Homo sapiens: one gene and its partner. The protein of the gene in region 2 purifies or fractionates together with the protein of the main gene of each other region. This does not show direct contact. Each region holds a gene or a part of one and is shown on either strand. Other genes may lie near its edges. The genes, in order: CSN2 and PIPOX.

The links.
Region 1: the proteins of PIPOX (region 2) and CSN2 purify together in Homo sapiens (affinity purification with mass spectrometry; one large-scale study listed by BioGRID and IntAct). This does not show direct contact.

What each region holds. Positions count from the first base shown.
Region 1 is NC_000004.12:69,962,612-69,967,067, reverse strand, and holds the start of CSN2 (beta-casein isoform 1 precursor), read left to right. Parts: upstream 1-1,339; 5' UTR 1,340-1,387; intron 1,388-4,456. UniProt on the Homo sapiens protein: Important role in determination of the surface properties of the casein micelles.
Region 2 is NC_000017.11:29,046,081-29,049,905, reverse strand, and holds part of PIPOX (peroxisomal sarcosine oxidase), read right to left. Parts: intron 1-3,825. UniProt on the Homo sapiens protein: Metabolizes sarcosine and L-pipecolic acid.

The DNA of each region.
Region 1 (4,456 bases), on a different chromosome or scaffold from region 2:
TTGCTTCCACTGAATTATGTCACAGTGCATGCCTGACATTCACAGTCATCCATGATCTGATTCTATCAAACCTCTGCAATTGTAACTTGCAATGTATGCCCTCTGAATATCCTCAAACTGGTATGTTGCTCTTTCAGTTCCTGTGTTTTCTTCAGCCAAAATATCTATCCCCATTTAATCATCTCGCAAAATTCTACTCATTCTCTAAGGCTCAACTAAAAGAGCAGTTCCTTAATGGCAAGCTCCCCTGCCACACACAGCACAGAGGCCCTACTTTTCCAATTCAGGCATAATTAAATTGTACATATTTCAACCAAATGCTACATTGATAGATAAATTTTATAAAAAATTATCAGAAGGTTAAAACATGGGCTCTGAGACTCACATGTGATCAAACAGAATCACATGTAGTCAGACAGATCTGAGTCCAACTGGTATCTTTGCCATTAACAATATGGTTTTGAGCAAGTTACTTAACCTTTTGGCATCTCTGTTTTCTCAACCTAAATATGAAGAGGAGAGCTACCTCATGATGTTCTTGTGCAGATTATACAAGATAATATCTTTGCTTAGTGCTTGGCAAAGGGTTAGAACTAAGCAAAAAAACCCATCATTAATATTATCATAATTATGCTTGACCTGAAAAGAGATAATCAATATTAAAAGGTAAATAAAACTCCGTGATACTTTGCAAAATTTTTATTACAGATTTACTGAAGATTTTGCCTATACCAGCCACCCAGATTCCCTCTTCAAGTTATTCCATTACAGAGGAAAGTTTATTTATCTTGTGTACAAAATATTTGTTTTAACTAAATTATTTTTTTTTCCAAATCAAGTGGCCCTGGGAGAAACAGTTTGCCTCACATAACTAAGCTACCATCATGGACTTGTTATCTTGTCAGTTTCTTCATTTCAGCATAAAGCACTAACAACTGCTTAGGTTCACATGAAACTGTGGCCTTTGTGAAGCCCTGTGTATATCTAGCGTTCACATACAATTTTCCCACAACTGAAATCTCAAGGCCCCACTAGGCCCTAAAGAGACCTAATTATGTCCATAATAACTTGGGGACAGGGCCAGAGTATCACTGTCCTCCAGTCATTGTCTTTTGTTATTGAATAATTGCATTTCCTGGACAGGTTTCTTTTATCAACTTGTGAATTGTTCCCTTGTTATAATGATGCCCAGAATTTCTGGGGATATGTAATAGGCAGAAATCATTTTCTAATCATGTGGACTTCTTGGAATTAAAGCTCGCTATTGATCTTATTTCAAATCACAAAATTAGTGTGTCATTAAATATAGTATATAAACAGTCACAGAAGCTGATGGACCATCATCCATCCAGCACTACCTTCACTTCTCTTCAATCTTGGAAAAACGGTAAGAATTTTAGATACAAATTTGTTGTATCTTCTCCTAACCATGTATTTCAAAGTAGCTTGAGCTATAGAAGGAACGTAGTTACTTAAAATATAGTGTTTGAAATAAAAGTATTTAAGGTAGTACTGAGATTATTTTTAACACTTAGGCTAAAAAAGATAGAAGTGCCCAGAAGAATTTGGTAATGACATATAGCCTTCATGAGTTTAAGAAAATATAATAGCTAATTTTATGCATATATATATATATATATATATATATATATATATATAGTATGAGGCTAGTTCATAGTTAATATTAAAAGGAGATTCATTTTTTTAATTAATCTTCCAATTTGATTTAGCATATCACAGTTATAAAAAGAATTATACTTCAATTATAGTATGGGTAGATAAATAATTACTGGAAAAGCTTTGTCCAGCAGGTAGTTTACAGCAGTAGCATACTGAGTTGAGAAATGGAGGGAATGGTATGGGGGCATTTACTACTTTAAATGTTTATAAACAATGTTTTTAGAAGAGTTTACTCATCAAACTTGTCTAGAGCCTCAAACTTCCCAGTTTATTATCTAGTTTGTAATATTTCAAAACAATATTAAAATGAGACAGAAATACAGAATTAAGTAAAAAAGAAACAATGTGGTTTACTTTGTAAGAAAATTCTTAATGGGGTAGAAAAGACTTGGAAACCATAAACAAAGATAATAGATGATATAAAAGAAAAAGTAGCTTAGAGTGTACCAGTTGATAATGAAGCTCTGGCTTAAAAATTAGTATATAAAAGTATACCAGTATGTAGTATATTTATAGTATAGAAATGAGTATAAAAACTAGTATAATTAGTATTAGTATATATTAGTATATTAGTATATAAATTAGCATTGTAATTATACATTCGTATATAAAATTATTATATATATTAGTAGATTAGTAATAAAACTAGTAAAGTTTATATTACTTATAAAATATAGAAAATGCTGTGGGATCTTCCCTATGTGTAATTATATATAATAGAGTGTTATATTCTGTTTCTGAACCCTGACATAAAAATTTGGGAACTTATAGTGGTCTTAGGCAAAGTAAAATTAATAAAAACTTAATTAACATTCATAAAAAATCTAGAAAAAATATTTGTTTTCTGTAATAGAATTATGTTCAACCTTCAAATATTGAAAAGAACATCTCTCAAATAAATTAAAGACTTTTTTGATGAAGTATTTTAGTTCAAAAATTTAGTTCAAAAATTGAGTTTCAATATCTGAGAATGAAGATTTGAGTGGTGAGTAATATTGTGGCACAAACATTATTTTGAAATAAATTACAAAAAAATGTAAGAACACATAACAAGGAGATGATTTAGTATATTTTGGTCAAAAATATTAACATATATTTCACAAGAAGAGGTAGTCCCAAGCTTAGCAGTGGGCAAGAGGCTCTGACCCCTTGGCGGATCATCAAGAGAATCGTGTGTACATTTCAATAAAGAGAAGAGAAGAAGCCTAGTGTACAATATCTAAAGTCATGTGGCATAAAGGAGAACAGACATTATTAGCTATGTGGGGAAGATGAATATAAACGGAGAAGAAACAAACTCAATAGTCCAATAAAGTCTCTGGATAGTGACACAAATAAGGAAAGTGTTAAAATGAAAACCTCAGTCTTATTGGAAATGAGGAGAAATAAACTAAAATAGTCATGGTAACCGTTTAGTGAAAAGAAAAAAGGTAAAAATAAAATGTGACTTTTTTGTACACATTTTCTTGATCAGTCTCTTCCAGTAGAACTGAGGCTCCATGAGGGAGTAATATCAGGACTGTAATATTTTGTTCATTGCTGCGGTCCTGGTCCCTAGACAGTGTCTGGCAAGAACAGATTCTAAAGAAATATTTTTAAGTTAATGAATAAATCTTTTTTTAAATTTTATTTGTCTTTTGAAATTATTATTATTATACTTTAAGTTTTAGGGTACATGTGCACAAAGTGCAGGTTTGTTACATATGTATACATGTGCCATGTTGGTGTGCTGCACCCATTAACACGTCATTTAACATTAGGTATATCTCCTAATGCTATCCCTCCCCACTCCCCCCACCCCACAACAGCCCCGGTGTGTGATGTTCCCCTTCCTGTGTCCGTGTGTTCCCATTGTTCAATTCCCACCTATGAGTGAGAACATGTGGTGTTTGGTTTTTTTGTCCTTGCGATAGTTTGCTGAGAATGATGGTTTCCAGCTTCATCCATGTCCCTACAAAGGACATGAACTCATCATTTTTTATGGCTGCATAGTATTCCATGGTGTATATGTGCCACATTTTCTTAATCCAGTCTATCATTGTTGGACATTTGGGTTGGTTCCAAGTCTTTGCTATTGTGAATAGTGCCGCAATAAACATACATGTGTATGTGTCTTTATAGCAGCATGATTTATAATCCTTTGGGTATATACCCAGTAATGGGATGGCTAGGTCAAATGGTATTCCTAGCTCTAGATCCCTGAGGAATCGCCACACTGACTTCCACAATGGTTGAACTAGTTTACAGTCCCACCAACAGTGTAAAAGTGTTCCTATTTCTCCACATCCTCTCCAGCACCTGTTGTTTCCTGACTTTTTAATGATCGCCATTCTAACTGGTGTGAGATGGTATCTCATTGTGGTTTTGATTTGCATTTCTCTGATGGCCAGTGATGATGAGCATTTTTTCATGTGATTTTTGGCTGTATAAATGTCTTCTTTTGAGAAGTGTTTGTTCATATCCTTTGCCCACTTTTTGATGGGGTTGTTTGTTTTTTTCTTGTAAATTTGTTGGAGTTCATTGTAGATTCTGGATATTAGCCCTTTGTCAGATGAGTAGATTGCAAAAATTTTCTCTCATTCTGCAGGTTGCCTGTTCACTCTGATGGTAGTTTCTTTTGCTGTGCAGAAGTTCTTTAGTTTAATTAGATCCCATTTGTCAATTTTGGCTTTTGTTGCCATTGCTTTTGGTCTTTTACACATGAAGTCCTTGCCCATGCCTATGTCCTGAATGGTATTGCCTAGGTTTTCTTCTAGGGTTTTTATGGTTTTAGGTC
Region 2 (3,825 bases):
CTGCCCCTGTGGCATTTCTTTCTTAGCCCAGATATTGATATAACAGTGGGAAATTTTCCATCTGAATGTGTGATGCCAGACCCTCCCCTAGTCCGAAGATGTGTTTGGGAAATTCTCATTTTCCGTGGATCACAGCTGAGCTATTTGGCCTGAGGGAAACCGTGCGCTGCTGGAGAAATGCCTTGGATTGGAGAGAGATTTTTGACCATTATGAGCAAATCGGAAATAAATGTAAAACACTGCCTGGAAATGCAAAGGCCTGTGATTATGGGAGATAGGTGAGAGGCTCCTATGGGAAATGCTTAGAGAATTGGAAACCAGTCAGTCAAAACCGGGATTGGAGAATGGGCCTTTTCCTCCCAGTATGAAGATGGATGGCTTCCATGGGCAGATTGAAAATCATTTAAGTGCTTATTTTCTTAATGGCTTTTTCTAGATACCAACAAATAGACTGCTCATTCTGCATCAATTTCTCACCCCTGTGTTCGTGGCCTCCCTGTCTTCTTTTTTTCTGCTTAGACCTGGGCTGTAAGTTTGGGAAGGAGAAGGGTGAGAGGAGACAAGGGCATCAGCAGGATAAAAAATGACCGGGAAATGAATGGTCAGGACTAGCTACAAAGAAGGACTGAAAGCCAGCACATGGGTTGCCAGGGAACCCTAGAAAAGAGTGCAGCTCCCACCTCCCAGAATGCCCATCAGCTGAGTCAAGAGCATTTAGTATGAACTATTCCTTCCTCCTGACCCTAGCTTGATCCAGCACTAGGAAGAGGTAATTGAAGATTCCTCCCGAGGGCCTTGTTGACTCTGCTATAGCCCGACTAATGCCTCAGATATGATGTAGGGAGTTGGTGATCAGGGATTTCCACCAGTTACTGTAGCAGGACAGGGTGTAGGATGGAGTGGGGAGGAATTGGGAGAGGAGACGGCTCTCCCTGCACCTGCCATCTCCCATCCCAAGCTTCAGCTCTCCCCTCTGTGGGTTAAAAATGCCCAGCAAGCCAGCTCTGAGTCACCTTGGGGAAGGGATTCGAATGGGGACTTGGTAATGGCTGCTGCCTTTGTTGGTTTTGGAGGAGCTCTAGGCATTTCATCTTCCGTTCAGTGGGCCGAGGTGGAATTGGTTAACAAAGACTGCTCCAGGGAGGGGATGTGGCTGACAAGCCAGACACTTCGCAGACACAAGAAACAGCAGCTGCAGAGGGGGCCACCAGGTTCTGCCAGCAGCTGTACTGCCTACGGCTGTGATCTTGTCTGATACTGTCAGCTAAGCAGGGGCAGCCCAGGTCAGGAGCTAGACAGTAGGACTCAAAGGGAGAAGGCGGGGCAGGAAAGAGATGGGCCAGGGAGCTGGGTTTTGCTGTTGGAATCAGCATCCTGGCTGTACACATCACAAAAGATTCAGACCTTGTGATCTGACACATGTGTCATTGTCTGTTCCCAGAATATATGCAAATGTCCCAAACCCACCCATGTTTAGTATGCCGCTGTCACAGGAAGCAGCTAAACAGAATGAAAAGCACTGGACAACCACCTGAACTGCCAACTCCTAAAGGTTTTTTTTTAATCATCATCAAATAGCATTAAGTATGCTCATATCTATCAGTAGTATTATGGTATTGTGCTGGTTCTTCTAGAAAAACCTGGGGAAAAGTAAGAACCACACAGATGATGAATCATTTAGAAAATAAGAATCAGTAAAAGCTAAAGGAATTAGAATGGCTTTTAGCCCAAAGGTAGTAGAGCTGTATTCAGATACCATTCTGAGAATGGGAAGTATCTGCTCTGTGTCCCTGCTAAGTAAAAGAACCAAATAAATTGGTGTGCCTGAGTACATTAGGTTAGCCATAAGAAAGGACTTATAATAATAGAATAATAACAATAGTAGTAAGAATACTTAGCACTCTAGAGGTTTTTAAAGCATATTCACATTACTTTTCATTTTTCGTAACTGGGGCTATGAGACATCAGAATGGTCTTTTAAGAAGGGCTGTGATATTTCCCTGTCTTTAAATGCATAGTAGCAGTCTTTTGACCTGGGATGATTTAGGCATGAACTTATTTGGAGACAGAAATGGACAAGTTAACCAGTTTGAGGTATCTTCCACACCCAGGGCCAGCAAGCTACCACTCAGGGACCAAATCTGGCCTTCTGCTTGTTTTGGTCTGGTCCATGAGCCAAGATGGTTTTTAAATTTTTTAATTGTTGATTTTTTTTAATCCAAAGAAGAATAATGTTGAGTGACACATGAAAATTATATGAAGTTCAAATTTCAGTGTCTATAAATAAAGTTGTATTAGAATACATCCAGGCTCATTTATTTACATCTTGCTTTCACACTACAATGGCAGAGTTGAATAATTGTAACAGAGACCACGTTGCCTGCAAAGGCTAAGATACTTACTACGTGGCCATTTATAGATAAAGCTGGCCAACCTCTATTCTAGACTTAAGAGTATAGTAATTCTGTGATTTGCATTAATGGGATAAGACCCTGACTACCCGGCAGCAACCCTCTCATAAGATTGTGAGGAGAATGGAATGAGTTATAGGTGTCAGGTACTTAGGCAACTCTTAGTTTTTTCTTTTCTTTTCTTTTCTTTTTTTTTCTTTGAGACGGAGTCTCACTCTGTCACCCAGGCTGGAGTGCAGTGCAGTGGCGTGATCTCGGCTCACTGCAACCTCTGCCTCCCAGGTTCAAGCGATTCTTCTGCCTCATCAGCCTCCCTAATAGCTGTGATTACAGGTGTCCACCACCATGCCTGGCTACTTTTTGTATTTTTAGTAGAGGCGGGGTTTCACCATGTTGGCCAGGCTGGTTTTTAACTCCTGACTTCAGGTGATCCACCTGCCTCAGCCTCCCAAAGTGCTGGGATTACAGGCGTGAGCCACCATGCCCAGCCTAGTTTCTTATTGTAAACACTACATATATGGTGAGGAGGAGGAGGAAGATGGTTTTCCAGGTGCTGTTCTAAGCCCATTACCTACTTATCCTCACCCCAGCACCATGACACAGGTATTAGTATCCCTACTTCACAGATGAAAAAAGCTGAGTCTCACCAGAGGTTCAACAGCTCGTTCCAAACCACACAGCTGAGCGTGTCAGAGCTGAGATTTAGAGCCAGGTCCAGTTCCAAAGCCCGTCCAAATTCCTGTCCTCCTGGCAAAGAGGAGGATTGTGCGCTTCTGAGAGTCTCCTACCCAAGGATCCCTCTCCCTCTTTCCTGCTGCCACTCCCCTTGGTATCTGTGGTTGTTGCACCCATCTGTCTCCTCCTGCCTTTCCTCCCACTGTTGCTCAATGGAACAGAATGCAGCTGACCCAGAATGGGTCAATAAGGGACTGCCCCTTATTGAAAGGTGCTAGACATTGGGCCAAGTATTTCACAAAAGTCTCATTTAATCCTCTCAGAGCCCTATCGTAAAAAGTGAGGCACAGAGAAGTCAAGAAACTTTTCCAAGATCACACAACTGGTGTGGAATAGAGCACAATGTCAAACCTAAGCCTGTCTCACTCCAGAATCGTCTCCCTCGGAAAGATTCCAGACACTCTAACGTCTCTTAGTTGCCTCATTGTGTGCTAGGAGGAAGTGTGCCCTCTGAGGCCCAGGGCGATTCTTTTAGCAAAAGATGCTCAGCAGTATTCACAGACAACTGACAGAGAGGGGTCCCTCTGCCGGGCCACCCACCAGCAAGACATGCTCCTTTATTTGGGTGCTGGGTGCATTAGCTGCCTCTGAATAAATCTGTAATTAGCTGCCCTGGCTGATTTGCATAATGGATTTCACTTTGTTCTTAAGTTAATGGTATTTTTGCAACAGAACACTA